Homo sapiens: one gene and its partner. The protein of the gene in region 1 purifies or fractionates together with the protein of each later gene. This does not show direct contact. Each region holds a gene or a part of one and is shown on either strand. Other genes may lie near its edges.

What was found.
Region 2: the proteins of EFCAB11 (region 1) and SFI1 purify together in Homo sapiens (co-immunoprecipitation; 2 studies listed by BioGRID and IntAct, with this or other methods). This does not show direct contact.

Annotation. Positions count from the first base shown.
Region 1 is NC_000014.9:89,943,769-89,952,582, reverse strand, and holds part of EFCAB11 (EF-hand calcium-binding domain-containing protein 11), read left to right. Parts: intron 1-2,440; coding exon 2,441-2,486; intron 2,487-8,814.
Region 2 is NC_000022.11:31,611,491-31,620,304, forward strand, and holds the end of SFI1 (protein SFI1 homolog), read left to right. Parts: intron 1-275; coding exon 276-350; intron 351-1,651; coding exon 1,652-1,726; intron 1,727-1,863; coding exon 1,864-2,040; intron 2,041-2,111; coding exon 2,112-2,365; intron 2,366-3,298; coding exon 3,299-3,370; intron 3,371-3,557; coding exon 3,558-3,789; intron 3,790-5,254; coding exon 5,255-5,387; intron 5,388-5,509; coding exon 5,510-5,588; intron 5,589-6,624; coding exon 6,625-6,736; intron 6,737-6,823; coding exon 6,824-6,928; 3' UTR 6,929-7,098; downstream 7,099-8,814. Other genes in the region: PISD (phosphatidylserine decarboxylase proenzyme, mitochondrial), read right to left, coding at 8,122-8,346. UniProt on the Homo sapiens protein: Plays a role in the dynamic structure of centrosome-associated contractile fibers via its interaction with CETN2.

The DNA of each region.
Region 1 (8,814 bases):
AGTGGCTCAGCTATGAGGGGCTGCCTAGTTACTGAGAAGCTTATTATGGAGCTCAGAGAAGTAGTCAGGGCTGACTCTTAGAAATGGCAGCTCTCCTGTTTACCTGTAATCATTTCAGTTGGAATTACAAAGCAGGTCAGCTGAAAAGAGTCAGCCTGTGAAGCATTGTATTTAACTTGGATTCACCTGGAAAGGTATCTTGTCTCATTTTTGCCTTTATCACCCTTGAGTCTATTTGGTTTCAATTTTAGAATGAGGAATTTAATGACAGATACAGTGATGTAACATACTGTACATACACTCCATGAAATTTAACAGATTTTACTTTTCATATTGAGGTGAGGTTTTCTATTTTATTTTTTAAGCAAATGAACTATTTAGTAACCGCAGGTCACTAAACGGTATTTACTAATAGCATGTCACCTATAAACTTAGTCATTTGTACAATGAACTTTTATTATGCAGGTGACACTTAATTTCTGTGAAATTCAACAGATTTTTTTAGACTAGGTTGAGGTTTGGGGTTTAATTTTTTAATATTGCTTTTGAGCAAATGAAATATTCACTGACTGCAGGTCATGAAGCAATAAAATACTTATATAATAAATCACTTATACATTCATGCAGTTTTTTACATAATTAAGTTTATTTATTTGTTGAGATGCAGTCTTGCTCTGTCACCCAGGCTAGAGTGTAGTGGCGTGATCTAGGCTCACTGCAACCTCCACTTTCCAGGTTCAAGCAATTCTCCTGCCTCATCCTCTTGAGTAGCTGGGACTACAGGTGCACACGACCATACCCGGTTCTTTTTTTTCTTTTTTTTTTTTTGTGTTTTTAGTAGAGATGGGGTTTCACCAATGTTGGCCAGTCTGGTCTCCAACTCCTGACCTCAAGTGATCCGCCCACCTCAGCCTCCCAAAGTGCTGGGATTACAGGCATAAGCTACTGTGCCCACCCATACACAATGAAATTTATTGTTTCTATTTAATAAAAGGAGTACTTGCTAGTTGCTAGTGATATAAAGATGAATGAAACACAGTCTCTACTTCGAAGCAGTTCAGAGTTTAATATAGAAAGACATAAAACTGTGATAGATACCAAGAAAGAGAAGAGATTGAAAAACAAAGTGAAGGGAGCAAAGAAGGAAGGCCTAATTCTAGTGGTAACTATAACAGTCTGGGTGGTCATTTAGACTAGAGAAGATAGACTACTCTGATAAGTATCTAGGAACACTTTGTGGGTGGTGGGACAAGTTAGGCCCTGATGACTGATTGGATGTGGTGGTGGTAAGAGTGACATGACCACTGGGACTGAAGGGATAGCAATGCCACCAATTAAGAGAAAATTTAAGAGTAGGTTCAGAGGAAGTCAGTGAGTTTCGATTGGAACACATTGAGTTTGAGGCAGCTATGAGCATTCCAGGTGCATTCACTCGTTAAATAATATGCTGGCTATTGAGGTTATGGTGGTGAAAATCCACCGTTAGATTTTACTGCTTCCCTGAGATGTAGCAATCTGAAATTGGGTGGAGGGGATAGGGCTGGAGATAGACTTGGGGCTCCTTGGTTTCCATGTGGTTGCTCAAAACACGAGGCTGGATGGCATTGCCCAGGAAGAGTATGCAGAATAGGAAGAGCCATGGTCTGAGGATAGAACGTTAGGGAATACAAGCATTTAAGGGTAGGAGGGGACTTGAAGAAGTGGGAGTGGGAACCATTTGGCAGGAACAAGAGGAACCAGGAAAATGCAGGAAATACTGGGAAGGGTTCGAGACCAGAAGTGGAGAAATTATGTCAGATGCTGCGAAGGCTCTAATACTATAACGTTTATAAAGCCCTTGTAACAGTGTGGTAAAGGGCTTATATTTTAACATTTAGTGAAAGCAGGTCCTCATATTTTCTATACAGTAAAGTCTCAAATGTTTAAAGATGCATAGGGGAAAAAAGCTGATTAGTCTAAAATGATAACAATGATTTTCATTGGATGGCTGATTTTTTAATTTTCTTCATAATTTTTTGTATTTTTCATGCTTTCTACATCAATCATGTGATACTTTTATAATTAGGAAAAAAATCTTAAAAATAGAGCCATAGAGCCCATTATAACAGTTGTATTTGTCTAAAGTAGAAAGGCTGCCTGCCTGTTAGATTATATTATATATGGGACAGCCAAATTGATTTTCTGTTCTTAAACTGTTTTGGTCAATGGAATAAAGTTTTGGGGGCTATTAGGGACTAGCAGATTAGTGTCTGCTATTTTATAGATGTTGATGGAAAAATAAAATGACTATTATAGCTATTGTGTATCATTACTTGTCTGCTTGGTTCAACAGACTTGGTTTCTCATAAAATAGATCCTTATTCCCACCTGAAGAATTAAGAACTTGCACTGTGAAAACGTGATAAAATTACATGTTCTATTATTTTTTCCTCTTTTCTAGATAGAAGTGGATTCTGTGATGTCTTCAATAAATCCAAATACTTCTGGTAATATGAAAGTTAATATTAATTTTTAGTACCTTATTTAGACACTGAGATGGCTTGGCTGTGTCCCTACATCAGTCTCATCTCAAATTCCTATGTGTTGTGGAAGGGACCTGGTGGAAGGTAACTGAATCATGGGGGCGGGTTTTTCGCATGTTGTTCTCATGATACTGGATAAGTCTCATGAGATCTGATGGCTTTATAAGGGGGGGCTTCCCTGCACAAGCTCTCTCTTTGCCTGCTGCCATCCATGTAAGACGTGACTTGCTCCTCTTTGCCTTCTGCCATGATTGTGAGGTTTCTCCAGCCACGTGGAAATGTAAGTCCATTAAACTTCTTTCTTTTCTAAGTTGCCCAGCCTTGGGTATGTCTTTATCAGTAGCATGAAAACAGACTAACAACACTCACAAAATGAAAATTAAAAACAGAAACTAGGCTGGGTGCAGTGGCTCATGCCTGTAGTCCCAGCACTTTGGGAAGCCAAGGCAGGTGGATCGTCTGAGGTCAGGAGTTTGAGACCAGCCTGGCAAAGATGATGAAACACCGTCTCTACTAAAAATACAAAAAATTAGCTGGGCGTGGTGGCAGGCACCTATAATCCCAGCTACTCTGGAGACTGATGCAGGAGAATTGCTTGAACTGAGGAGGTAGAGATTGCAATGAGCTGAGATTGAGCCATTGCACTCCAGCCTGGGCGACAAGAGTGAAACTCTGTCTCCAAATAAATAAATAAATAAAAACTATATAGCATTATATTTAAGCACATCTTTATTTTGTTTCCCGTTGTCCAAAAGAAAGGTTTTGGTGGTTTTTATTTTTTTTTAATTTTTAATTTTTGTAGGTGTATATATAGAGAGGTGGTACATGAGATGTTTTGATGTAGGCATGTAATGTGTAATAGTCACATCATGGGAAATGGGATAATTATCTCCTCGAGCATTAATCCTTTGTGTTACAAACAGTCCAGTTACACTCTTAGTTATTTTAAAATGTTTATCATTTTGACTCTAGTCACCCTATTGTGCTATCAAATACTAGGTATTAATAGTCACATCATGGAGAATGGGGTATCCATGCTATGAAGCATTTATCTTTCATGTTACCAAGAATCCAATTATACTCTTTTGGTTATTTTTTAATGTACAATTAAGTTGTTATTGACTATAGTTACCATTCTGTACTATCAAATACTAGGTCTTACTCTATTTTTTTTTTTTTGTATCCATTAACCATCCATAACTCTCCCCAACATCCTCACTATCCTTCCCAGCCTCTGGTAACCATCCTTCTACTTTCTATGTCCATGAATTAAATTGTCTTGATTTTTAGATCCCATAAGTGAGAACATGCAGTGTTTGACTTTCTGTGCCTTATTTGACTTAACATAGTGACCTCCCATTTTCATCTGTGTTGTTGCAAATGACAGGATCTCATTCTTTTTTATTGCTGAATAGTACTCCACTGTGTATGTGTACCACATTTTCTTTATCCATTCATCTGTTGATGGACACTGAGTCTTCTTCCAAATCTTGCCTATTGTGAACAATGCTGCAACAAACAGTATATGAGAATGCAGATATCTTCCATATGTTGATTTCCTTTCTTTTGGGTATATACCCAGCAGTGGGATTGCTGGATCATATGGTAGCTTTATTTTTAGTTTTTTGAGGAACCTCCAAATGGTTCTCCATAGTGATTGTACTAATTTACATGCCTACCAGCAGTTTAATAAGAGCTCCCTTTTCTCCATATCCTTGCCAGCGTTTGTTATTACCTGTCTTTTGGATAAAAGCCATTTTAACTGTGGTGAGATGATATTATTGTAGTTTTGATGGCATTTCTCTGATCAATGATATTGAGTACCTTTTCACATATGCCTGTTTGCCATTTGTATGTGTTCTTTTGAGGTTCTTTTAATTTTGATTATTTATAAATATGTTTATCACAGGGAAATTTTAAACTGTTGAAGTGCATAAAGAAAAAATATCATTCATAATTTTAACATTCAAAAAATGATACTAGGTTTTCTGACTTGTGCAGCTGGATGAATGGACATGGCACCTACTGAAAAGAGAAGATGGCAGACGGGTGGGGCGGTGGGGTGGGAGCAGGGGGCAGGCAATACCTGGGGGTGAGGGAGACTAAGAGCTCAATTTTGAGTATGTTTGAGAAGTGTTAGTTTACTATGTCAAAGCAGTCAGATTGGATGAATTTCAGAAGTAAGTTCTGGGCTGAAGAAATTGGGAGTCATCAACCTGTAGACAGATTTTAAAATCATGAGAATGAATGAGACCACCTAGAGAGATAGAGTGGACTGAGAATGTTAAGAACTCTAGCCAGTAGAAGTCAGGTGGAAGATGAAGAAATGGCAAAGGAGACTTAGGAGTGACAGAGGGGCAAGAGGAAAATCAAGAGTGTTTGATCAAAAGCCAAGAGAAGTAGATATTTTAATGAGGAAGGTGTGGTCAGCACTATCAAATGCTCCTGAAAGGTGAGGTGGCATAACTGATGAGTATCCTTTGGAGTTGGCCACCTGGAGGTGTTTGATGACTTTAGCAAGAGGCATTTCAAAGTGTGGTGAGGGCAGAGTGGGTTGAAGATAAGTGGAAAGTGATGATGAAGTGTGACAATGTGAGTAGATGAGTCTTTTGTTAAGTCCAGAGTGGCAATAGATCAAGAGATGTTTTGTTTGCTTCTTCTTGTTTCTATTTAAATGGAAGAACATGTTTCCAAGCTTAGCAGAATGATCTAGTGAAGAGGAGGAAGGAAGATGAGAGAGAGGGAGGGAAGGAGACCTATTGTGTAAGGGGATAGGATCCAGAGCATGTTAGATTGGCTTTTTAAATATTACCTTTTTTTGAATAATTTAAAACTTCCAAAAAGTTCAAAATAAAACAGTACAGAGAATAGCTTACTCTCTGTGTAAGGTATACCTTTTACCCAGATTGACATTGTTAACATTTTACACCATCTTCCTTCTCCTTTGCACTTTCTACCACTATCCCCTTCTCTTCTGTAATGAATATAACCAAAATATGCTTATCATATTCATAAATATATGTTGATACTGTTTTATCTGATTTATCATCTATATTTTGTCAGTTGATCTAATAACATCCTTAATAGTATCTTTCCTTTTTTAGTATGTTAAAAAATCATAAGTGTATCTAGGGAAAAAAAAGACACATATGAATAGGAACAAAGATAAAAATGACAGCAGTTGGCTGGGAGTGGTGACTCACACCTGTAATCCAAGCACTTTGGGAGGCCAAGGCAGGAGGATTGCTTGATGCCAGGAGTTCAAGACCAGTCTGGTCAACATAGTATGAGACTCTGAATCGACAAAAAAGCAAAAAAAAAAAAAAAGCCAGGCATGATGGCACGTGCCTGTAATCTTAGCTACCTGGGAGGCTGAGGCAGGATCCCTTGAGCCCAGGAGTTTGAGGTTGCACTTAGCCATTATCATACCACAGCACCCCAGCCTGGGCGACAGAGTGAGACCTCATCTCTTAAAAAACTTAATTAATTCAACAGAAGGAAGAAAATGGGAACAAAAAATAGATGGAAATAGACAAGTAGAAAAATAATATGGTAGATTTAAATCCAATCATTAATGTTTTAGTTAGATGTAAATGATCTCAACAGCCCCATTGAAAGGGAGATACTGTTAAATTAGATAAAAGAGTACCAACTAACTCTGTGTTGCCTAGAAGCCCACTTTAAACATAAGGGCAAAAAAGATTAGAAATATATACTGTACTGAACACTAACCAAAAGTATGCCAAAGTGAGCATGTTAATATCAGATGAAGTAGACTTCAGAAGAAGAAATATTACCAGGGATAAGGAGAGCCAGTTCATTAAGGGAATTAAACATTTATGCCCCTGGCCAGGTGCCATGACTCAAGCCTGTAATCCCAGCACTTTGAGAGGCCAACGCAGACGAATCACTTGAGGCCAGGAGTTTGAGACCAACCATGATGAAACCCCGTCTTTACGAAAAAATACAAAAAAATTAGCTGGACATGGTGGTGCATGCCTGTAATCCCAGCTACTCGGGGGGCTGAGGCACGAGAATCATTTGAGCCCAGGAGGTGGAGGTTGCAGTGAGCCCAGATTGCATCACGGCACTCCAGCCTGGGTGACAGAGCAAGACTCTGTCTCAAAAAAAAAAATAAAAAAAAAAAATCCCCTAATAATGGAAATTCAAAATACATGAAGCAAAAAACTAATAAAACTGTAAAGAAAAATGGACAAATCCATAATGATGGTAGGAGGTTGCAACACCCCTATCAATAATTAAGCAAGTAGACATAAAATCAATAAGGATATAGGAGACGTGAACAGCACTGTCAACCAGTGTGACCTAATTGTAATCTATAGAATGTTCTACCCAACAAAAGCAGAATACACATTCTTTTCAAGTCTACACAGTATATTTAATAAAATTGGTCATACTCTGGGCCATTAAACATGTCAATACATTTAAAGTACAAAGTATGTTCTTTGTGATGGAACGACATTAGAAATCAATAGCAAAGCTGTCTGGAAAAGTTGCAAATAGTTGTTCCAAGTAAAAGTTTAAAAGTTCCAAACAAATAGCACACTTCTAAATAACTCATAGGTCAAAGAAAAAATCAAAAGGGAAAAATTAGGAAGTATTTTGAATTGAATGAAAAGACCACATTTCAAATTTTGTAGGATGGATTGAAAGCAATACTTGGAAAGTGGTAGCACTAACTTTCTATGTTTAGGAAAGAATAAAGGTGTCAAACTGATGACCTCAGCTTCTACCTTTAATTATCTTCTACCTTTAACTACAAAAAAGAGTAAATAAGGCCCGAAATAAGTGGAGGAAAGGAAATAGTAAAGATTGGAATGGAAATTGTTGAAATTGAAAAGAGGACAAACAAGAAAAAATTAAAAGCTGATTTTGTTGAGGTAATCAATAAAAATGAGAAACTACTACCCACACTGAGTGGGGGGGGAAAAGAGAGCAGGGATTACTAACATTTAGATTTAAAATCTAATATTTTATTAGATTTATTATTAGATCTAATAAAATCTAATATTTTATTAGATTTATTATTAGATCTAATAAAATCTAATATTTTATTAGATTTATTATTAGATCTAATAAAATCTAATATTTTATTAGATTTATTATTAGATCTAATAAAATCTAATATTTTATTAGATTTATTATTAGATCTAATAAAATCTAATATTTTATTAGATTTATTAATATTGTATTAAAATCTAATACACTTTATGTACAAGGTTTAGAATCACATTTAAAATAAGACTTTCAGGATTATTGCTAGGAGAACATGTTCTTGATATAATCGCTAACTTGATAGAATTGCTCCAGGTTTTAAATTTCTTGTTGAAAATTTTCACTTTCAAAATATTCAGAATAATGTTTGATGTTCCATTAGTTACAACTTCTTGATAAAGCCTTTTCTACATTTTTTTCATTAGGGTTTTTTGTGAATATTCCAATCTACAGAGAGTTTTGTTTTCTGGCAAAAGGATTTCCCACATTCTTTGCATTGATAGGATTTCTCTTTCTTAAGAGTTCCCTGATATTCAGTGAGTTATTCTTTCTGGATGAAGATCTTACCCTAGTCATAATATCGTGTTTCTCTATTATGTTACTGATATGGATTGGCTGTGTCCCCACCCAAATCTCATTTTGTAACTCCCATAATTCCCACGTGTTGTGGGAGGGACCCAGTGGGAGATAATTGAATAATGGGGGCAGGTCTTTCCCAGGCTGTTCTTGTGATAGTGAATAAGTCTCACGAGATTTGATGGTTTTAAAAAGAGAAGTTCCCCAGCACAAGCTCTCTCTTGTCTGCTGTCATTCATGTAAGACATGACTTGCTCCTCTTTGCCTTCCGCTATGATCGTGGGGGCTCCCCAGCCGTGTGGAACTGTAAGTCCATTAAACCTCTTTCTTTTGTAAATCGTCCAGTCTCATCTTTATCAGCAGCATGAGAAAAGATTAATACAGTGGCTTTTCTGATACATCAAGTGTGACTATTGCTGAAGGCATTTTAACATTCATTATTCTCATAGACTTTCTTTCTTCTGTATGTTCTCTGATTTTGAATTAAGGATTTGACTTCACACTGAATGTTTTCTTTCCTTAACTAGTTCTCTAATGTGCAGAGAGGTATGGATTCTGGAAGAAAGAATACAGTCCCCACCTGTATTCTCCCAGCTGTACTCTAGTGTGAGTGTGTATGTATGTGTGTGTGTGTGTGTGTTTATTTGGAGAAACTCAAGACCACAAACATTCAAGAAAAGGAGTAAAATAGCCTAGCAAG
Region 2 (8,814 bases), on another chromosome or scaffold:
GAGTAGCCAGCCCCAGAATCCAGTGTCTCCCAGGGAAGACGGCTCAGCGGAAAAACCCGGTTCATGCTGACCCGTGGCTTATCAGTGCTGGGGGACCTACAGAGTGAGTCCTCTAGGCGGCACTCCCTGCCTATGCAGGAGACCCCTGGCACCATCCAGGACTCCTAGCAATGGGAGGACATTCAGCTGGGCAGAGGCTGGGTTAGATCAGGACCCACCCCAGGCTGTCTAGGCTGGGTCAGGACGCCACTCTCTGTGCACTTGCTCTCCCCCAGCTCCTGCACAGGCAGAGCACCCAACTGCTGGCACAGAGACTCAGCCGGACCTGCTTCCGCCAGTGGAGACAACAGGTGGGAACCCAGGAGATGTCCCCTCTGCACTTCCTTCTCCATCCTCTGGCCTGTGAGGCCTGGGCAGTGAATGACCTTCAGCCTACACCTCTAGTTCAGTATTTTTACTATCACCCTCCCCAGGGCCACCTCCTCTACCACCTTCCTGTCATTTCCAGGCACATCAGCTTCCTTCCGTCTGCAGTCTGCATAAGAACAGTTACTTCAAGGCCAGTTTCTCTCTCTACAGTGTTGTATTAAAAAATACATCAGTGGAGGCCGGGCGCAGTGGCTCACGCCTGTAATCCCAGCACTTTGGGAGGCCGAGGCAGGCGGATCATGAGGTCAGGAGATCGAGACCATCCTGGCTAACACGGTGAAACCCCGTCTCTACTAAAAATACAAAAAAAATCAGCCAGGCGTGGTGGTGGGCGCCTGTAGTCCCAGCTACTCGGGAGGCTGAGGCAGGAGAATGGCGTGAACCTGGGAGGCAGAGCTTGCAGTGAGCTGAGATAGCACCACTGCACTCCAGCCCGGGCAACAGAGCGAGACTCTGTCTAAAAAAAAAAAAAAAAAAAAATATATATATATATATATATATATATATAATCAGTGGGCCGGGCATGATGGCTCACGCCTATAATCCCAGGATTTTGGGAGGCCGAGGCAGGAGGATCACTTGAGCCCAGAAGTTCAAGACCAGCCTGGGCAACATAGTGAGACCCCATCTCTACAAAAACAAAACAGAAAAATTAGCTGGGTGTAGGCAGTGCACACCTGTGGTCCCAACTACTCGGGAGGCTGAGGCGGGAGGATTGCTTGAGCCCGGGAGGTCAAGGTTGCAGTGAGCTGTGATCATGCCACTGCACTTCAGCCTGGATGAGAGTGAGATTCCATCTCAAAAAGAAAAATCAGCATAATATCTTAAAAATTAACATGAAATGTGTTTTAAGGCTTTGCTGGGATCTTGCTTTTTAAAAAGCCAAGAGGGATCACACAGAGCAGCATCCACACGTCCCCAGCTCCCTCTTCCCGTTCTGTTGTCCTGTTTTCACCATTCCCCGGACCTCAGGCCGCTGCCTCCACGCATCCCCCTGCAGGAGCCCTTTGCCACCTTCTTTCATGAAGGTCATTCCTCAGGCCACAGATGGAGCGTGTGTTGAGCATCTCACCGCCAGGCACAAGGCTGGCCCTTCCTAGTGGAGGAAGTGGGAGCCTCGACTAGAGAGGGAGCCAAGAGGGACGAGCTGGGCAGGGCCCCGTGATCACCACGGCCTCCTTGAAGGGGCTATAGGGAAATGATCTGGTCTTTCTGGCCCTAGCTGGCAGCCAGGAGGCAGGAGCAGCGGGCGACAGTGCGGGCCCTGTGGTTCTGGGCCTTCTCGCTGCAGGCAAAGGTAATTGGGGCTCTGCATCCTACCATCCCTGCCTCTCCCTCAGGCCTTAGCCCTGCCTTGGGTGGAGGGAGGGCACCTGGTCTGTGGGGGAGCTCTAAGCAGGGAGACCTGGGCCTCACCTCCTGCCCTCCCTGGAGGTGTGGGCCACGTGGCTGGCCTTTGTACTGGAAAGGAGGAGAAAGAAGGCGCGGCTGCAGTGGGCGCTCCAGGCCTACCAGGGGCAGCTCCTCCAGGAGGGTGCCACGCGGCTCCTGCGCTTTGCAGCCAGCATGAAGGCCTCCCGGCAGCAGCTGCAGGCCCAGCAGCAGGTCCAGGTAGGCCCAGGGCCCCTTCCTGTGGGGAGCAGGCAGGGTGTGGCATGAGCTGACCAGAGGCTGTGTTGTAGGCGGCTCACAGTCTCCATCGTGCCGTCCGCCGCTGTGCCACGCTCTGGAAACAGAAAGTGCTGGGCCGGGGCGGGAAGCCTCAGCCCCTGGCAGCCATCGCACCCAGCAGGAAAGTGACGTTTGAGGGTCCCCTTCTCAACCGCATTGCTGCTGGGGCTGGGGATGGCACCCTTGAGACCAAGAGGCCACAGGCTTCTCGGCCTCTGGGAGCTCTGGGCCGCCTGGCTGCTGAGGAGCCCCACGCCCTGGAGCTGTGAGTAGCCTGTGCTCACCTTGTCCTCGCTTCCACCCTGGGCAAAAGGTTGGATGGCATAGCAGGGAGGAAAACAGCCCTGACGGGATGGGACGGGCTGGTCACGGCCTTGTCACAGCTGAGCTGCTGGGAACCCCCTCTTCTCCAGCCAGATCCCATCCCTCCCACGGCAAGAGGGAGAGAATGGAGTGGGATTTCCAAACCCTCTCTCCTTTGCCTGCCAAAGCTCAGGAAATAGGTGTCCCCTCCTCTGCAACACCTTCCTACCCTCTCTCCCGTCCTGCTGACACGATCTTTTCCGGAGTCATACACGTAGTTGACAAAGGGAACAAGCTCAGCTCCTACCCGTGCCTGCCGGCCTCTCTTCTGCTCCATCACAGCCAAGACACTGGCTTTTTGTCAGAAGCCCCTCTTTCTTGTGTGAGCTGGCACCTGTCCCTCTGCCCACCCCTACTATGGTCTCCTCAAACCCTAACCTGCCCTGCCCCATGCTGATGAAGCTGGTGGCTCCCACAGCAACCAGCACTACCCGAGAGCCTTGGGCCTCGGGGGAGATGTCAGGTGGGTGCATGGGGCCTGGGTCCCGGTCCCTGCTGTGCTCCTCACTGTTTGACTGACCTTGATGGGATCCTGAACGTCTCAGAGGCTGCTCCCCTGTGACATGGACCCTGGCGACCTGTACACCAGCGTCACCAGGGTTGTTCTGCAGGTCAAAAGAGACAATGTGGGTGAAGCAGTCCCCTGGCGTCAGGTACCTTTTGTCGGAACTGCTGGGAGCTCTATGGCCCAGGCCCACCCCAGCTTACTTGCTGACCTTGGCCTCGCCTTTCCTGACTTTCAGTCTCCCTATAAAATTGGAGATCCCACAGAGATCTCAGACCCCCCTGCAGCCCCTGGTCAGCCCAGGGGAACAGACCCCATGTTTCTTTCCAGCAACACTGCCCACTCAGCGAGGAAGCAGCCGCGACGCCCACACTTCCTGTTGGAGCCTGCGCAGAGCCAGAGGTCCCTGGGGTGCAGCACCGTGGGCAGGCAGGGGGAGATGGTCAGGGGTCCCCAAAGGCAGCGGGCACCTCCATGTGGGGCCTGTGTTTTGGCAGCCCTGGGGTGGGTGGCCCCCTTTCCTTCTTGTTCTTTGGTCCCAGAGGAGGGTCCTGTGGCCTGACCAGGCTCTTGCCTTCCCTGTGCTCAGGCCTCAGAAGCCACAGGAACATGGCCTAGGCATGGCTCAGCCAGCAGCCCCCTCCCTGACGCGGCCCTTCCTGGCAGAGGCCCCGACAGCACTGGTCCCACACAGCCCCCTGCCTGGGGCCCTGTCAAGCGCCCCTGGCCCGAAGCAGCCCCCGACGGCAAGCACAGGCCCGGAGCTGCTGCTGCTGCCTCTTTCCTCCTTCATGCCCTGCGGGGCGGCTGCACCAGCCAGGGTACGTCCTCCACCACCAGGCCTGGGCACTGGGGCTCTCACTCTGGTCTGACTTCTGGTGCTTTCTCATGCCACAGCTGTACTAGTTTCTGGAAAACCTTGGCACAGGGAGGCCACTCATCCATTTGACAAGCATAGGTAGCCACTGCACACCAGGTCCAAGGGCCACAGCAGTGAACAGCCAGCCAAGGGCCCTGCCATCCTGAAGCTTATATTCTAGTCAGAGACAAGCAAAGAAAAACCCCTGCCTGCAGGCCAGTAAAGTGGCTGCAGATCACGTAGGGTCCTGCAGGCCACAGTGAGAAGTAGCCTGGGATTTGAGAAGAGTAGGAAGTCGGGGAAGGGTTTTGGCAGGGAGCACCATGTCAGGTTTCTGTGCAGGCTGTGGTCACCATGACCACGTGGTCCAGGCAAGTAGTACTGGTGGCCTGGGCTCAGCGGTTGCCACAGAGGGGACAGGTACTCTCTTGGAGGCAGATGAGGCAGGATATGCTGCTCTGAGGGAGTTGCTGAATGAGGGGAAAGAAGGAATCCAGGCTGATGTGGGCTGCTGGCTTGAATAACTTGGGAAACAGAGTTCTTTGACTGGAAGAAGGAACTGGGGGTGGGGACTGGTTTGGGGTGAAGTGTCAAGAGTGTTTTGAACCAGGCTCTTGATGTCAAATTTGAGAGAAAGCAAACGTTGAGTCTGACCTTCAAGGAAGAGGTCAGGGCCAGAGATTGAGAAGAATCTTCAGCACAGGCCGAAGGTAACCCCAGAGCCACTGCGGCCTCTAGGAGGAGAGTACAGGGGAAGGAGAGAGGGGAGGAGGCTCCAAGCAGGGAGCCTGGGTGGGGATGGCCAGGGGGTGTGAGAGCTCAGTAATGGAAGTGACAGCTGCTCTAAGGCCACCAAAGCAGCTGGTTCCTGAAAGGGGATGAGGGGACAGGAAGGAACCAGTTCCTGTGGTGAGTTAGGCCATGTGGGGCCACTTACCCTGGCTGGAATGGTTTGAATGTGGGTTTGAAAGGGTTTTGACCCCTGTCCGGTGATGGAAGGGGCAAGTCCACTCTCACCAGGAGAGGAGGGCATGGAAAAGGCTGTAGAGCAGTGGCCTCTCACTGACCACTTCTCACTGATGTCAAAGCTCAGCAAGGTCATGAGCTTAGAGCAGGTGGGGGTGGAGGGTTGGGTAAGGCAAGGCTAGGAACAGCTGCTCAGGCAGTGGAGGCGTGAGGCGGACTGTGGTGACACGGGGTGCTCCCTGGTTGCTTGCGGGACTTTCCCCTACAGTACCAGGCCCTGTGTGCAGGGGCAGGCTAGACACTGAGCTGGCACGGCCAGTGCCTGGGAAGCCCAGCTCCTGCAGCTGGGAGCCTGGTCTTCCCCCACCCCTGCAGGGCAGGCAGTGACAAGGACTTGGTGTCCCCCTCCCTGGCTTCCTCCTAGCTTCCTTGCTCAGCATCTACCCTTCTTTCCTTTGCAGGTGTCAGCACAGCGGGCTACTCCTAGGGATAAGCCCCCGGTCCCCTCATCCCTGGCCAGTGTCCCTGACCCCCATCTACTCCTTCCTGGGGACTTCTCAGCCACCAGGGCTGGGCCTGGACTTTCAACTGCAGGTGTGTACCTGGGGCCTGTCAGGGCAGAAAGCACTCAGGCCACTCCCGGACCTGGGACTTGCTATTTACCCTGGTCCCCGAGGGGAAAATAGTCTGAAACAAGCTTACTTCTGTCGCCATAGGCAGCCTGGACCTTGAGGCTGAACTTGAGGAGATCCAGCAGCAACTACTGCACTACCAGACCACCAAGCAGAACCTCTGGTGAGCCCTGCGAAACGCCCTGCAGCCCTGGCTACAGGAGCAGGTGTTGCCTGGAGAGGTGGGCAGGCAGTTCCATTTCCCCCGAGCCAGCTGCCAGGGTCCTGTAGGTGGTCTCGGTCTAGCCATGGAGGGGTGTGGGGAGCCCTCAGTGTGTGCTGTCCAGAAAGACCCCATCTCCACCATGGCTCTCTACCCGGCTCAGTGCTGCTTAGGAAGGCCCAAGTCGTCAGACTCACCTGTGCACAGAGGCTCTGCTTCCTATGGGGGGGACGATAAAGTTGAGCAAAACTCTAAAAACCCGATGAGGCCATGCTGTCCCCAGTGACTAATTATAACACTGATATTAAAGGTGCAGAGAAGGGCCAGGCGCAGTGACTCACACCTGTCATCCCAGCACTTTGAGAGGCTGTGATCCAGGCAGATCACGGGGTTAGGAGTTCAAGACCAGCCTGGCCAATATGGTGAAACCCCATCTCTACTAAAAATACAAAAATTAGCCGGGCATGGTGGTGCACGCATGTAGTCCCAACTACTTGGAAGGCTGAGGCAGAAGAATCGCTTCAACCTGGGAGGCGGAGGTTGCAGTGAGCTGAGATCACGCCATTGCACTCCAGCCTGGGCAACACAGCAACACTCCATCTCAAAAAAAAAAAAAAATGCAGAGGAGACAGGCCCGTGACTCAGCTGCACTCAGTGGTCTGGGGACCATTCAACATGCAGCAACCTCAGAGCTTCCAGGGCAACAGACTGGCGCCTCATCCTTGGCTCTGCACAGGGGGAGAGAGACAAGGAGTGTGTTCTTGCCCAGGCCCACCTGAGTTGCTGTCTGCTGGGGAGGGCGGAGGAGACTGGGAGAGGAAAAAGAACAAGTGTTTGGCTCCCAAGCAGGGGCCTGCAGTTCAGGTCAGGGGCCCTACCAGACCACCTCTCTCCACCCGATACCCGCATCAGAATTAGCTGAGGTGCCTCTCCCTGAGCCGGATGGGGCTCTGCCAAGGACCCAGCCTGGCAGGCAGTGGGTATCTCCACCCCTCAGGTCCTGTCGGCGGCAAGCGAGCAGCCTGCGCAGGTGGCTGGAGCTGAACAGAGAGGAGCCGGGGCCTGAGGACCAGGAAGTAGAGCAGCAGGTGCAGAAAGAGCTGGAACAGGTGAGGCCCCAGGCCATCCCCAGGTGTCCCTGGGGACGCCCCGGGCTGTGCTCCCTCTCAGCCCTGCCTGTCCCTCCATGGCCCCAGGTGGAAATGCAGATCCAGCTGCTGGCAGAGGAGCTCCAGGCTCAGCGCCAGCCCATTGGCGCCTGCGTTGCCCGCATCCAGGCCCTGCGGCAGGCCCTGTGCTAGCGTGTTCGCACCAGGAACGCAGGTGCTGGGCTGTCGGGGAGGCCTCAGGCCACCTCCAGGAACAGAACACAGTTTTAAGTTTGATTTTTTTTATTTCAAAATGCTTTGCAATTAAATGAATTACTGTTCAGAAGTCTCCCACTTTTCATACAAAAATACTGTGCTACTGATACAGTTGAAAAAATTCAATGATGTCTCTCCTGCAGGAGAAATTCACAGCATCCCCAGGGTCAACATGAAATCTGGCCCTGTCCCCGCCACTGGGGGCTCCCCAGGCCTGCGTTCCTGATAAACTGGGACAGGTTTTCCAGGCACTGACCAACTATCCACCAAGGGTCCTCTGCCTCCAAGACAGACCCTGAATCAATAGCAGCAACTTTCCCATATTTCATGTAGGGATATGTGGAGGGGGACAGGAACTCTCCCATTTCCCCAGCTGGGCCTACTACCTGCCTGCCCTGTTCACTCTGGTGCCATGAGGCAGGTTCAGTGATTGATTGGTCTTGCCTGCTGCAGAGGACCTGGCCAGCTCCAGAAGGGTCACTCATCAGGTCCTGCAAAGGTCTGTATCATTAATCAGTGTCATCAGTGTCCTCAGAAGACACTAGCAGAGTCCAGGGTGATGCGTTCAGCCACAAGCACAAAGACTGCTTTTTCTAAAGAGCAGGATGAGGTGAATGTGGGAACGGAAAGCAGTTGTCACGAAGGCTGTGTGGCTCTGCTGGGGGAGAGGCATCCACAGTCTGTGCCAAGGAGGCACCTCACCCTGTGCAGCAGGAGCGTTAAGGCCAAAAAACAAAAGGGGCCAACAGAAAACAGCTCAGGTGATGGGGGGAGGAGCAGCAAGAAAAAACGACAACCGAGACCAACTGAAGGTTCGGTCAGGAATGCAGGCTCTTCCGTCTATACAGTGTTTAAAAAGATCCAAATGTGACTGAGATCATTCCAGCCTGCACTTTTTATTTGTAGGCAGAAGGAACGGGATAGGTTGAGGGGCATGATGGGGGCTCTCGCCACCTCTTGTCTGCACCTCTGGAACAGGTGGTAGCCGAATCATTCAAGTCCTACCTGGTCAGACTCCCAACCACGCTGAGGCAGGCCCTTACCTGGATGGCCTCATGGGCCTCCCTCTTGAAAAGACCCTCACTCTGTTTGGAAAAGATCCCTTAGCAGCCATAATCAGGAAAGAGACTCTAGAGCGAGCCCAGGGCTTCCCCAAAGCGGATTTTCTGTCCTGTTTTCAGCTGGAAATTGAAGTCCTTGGGGGCCTCGAAGATGAGCACGATGGTGGAGCCCAGGTTGAACTCGCCCAGGTGCTCGCCCTTACGCATGGGGACGCCCTCTCTATTGGTGTGCGTCACGAAGCTGAAGTCATTGTAGGAGCCCTTGCTGTGCCTTGGGCTGTTTGTGTGCAGGTCCTGTGGTGATAGGCTGGGGGTCAGTGGGGCCCAGGCCACCAAGTGCACAGTGTCACCCCCACATGTGTTTGGAGTCCCACTCCCTCTGTTGCTTGTCCCCACCACCACCCAACCCAGCTCCAAAAGGGAGGTGGGGATGGCATCTCAGGGCCAGGTGGGCCTGCTCTAGCCAGATCTCACACACAGCCTTGACACCTGCTGTGAACTGGGCCCAGGGAGGACAGGGAACAGTGGGGCCCAGTGGTCTCCATGCATGGTGCTGGGAGAGCAGCACCCGTGGGAGCCAAGGCCGTTGGTCACAAACTGACACCCAAAAAGGCAGCCCCTGGGGGCAGGGTGGGCAGCAGACCTGCGAGTGCTGACCCCTCATGCTGTAACCAACATGAGCCACCCCGAGCTCAACACTCCCTTTCTGTTCCCTCCTCACTCTCACCTTTGACCATGGTTCCTAGCAGAAGCCAGGTGCCA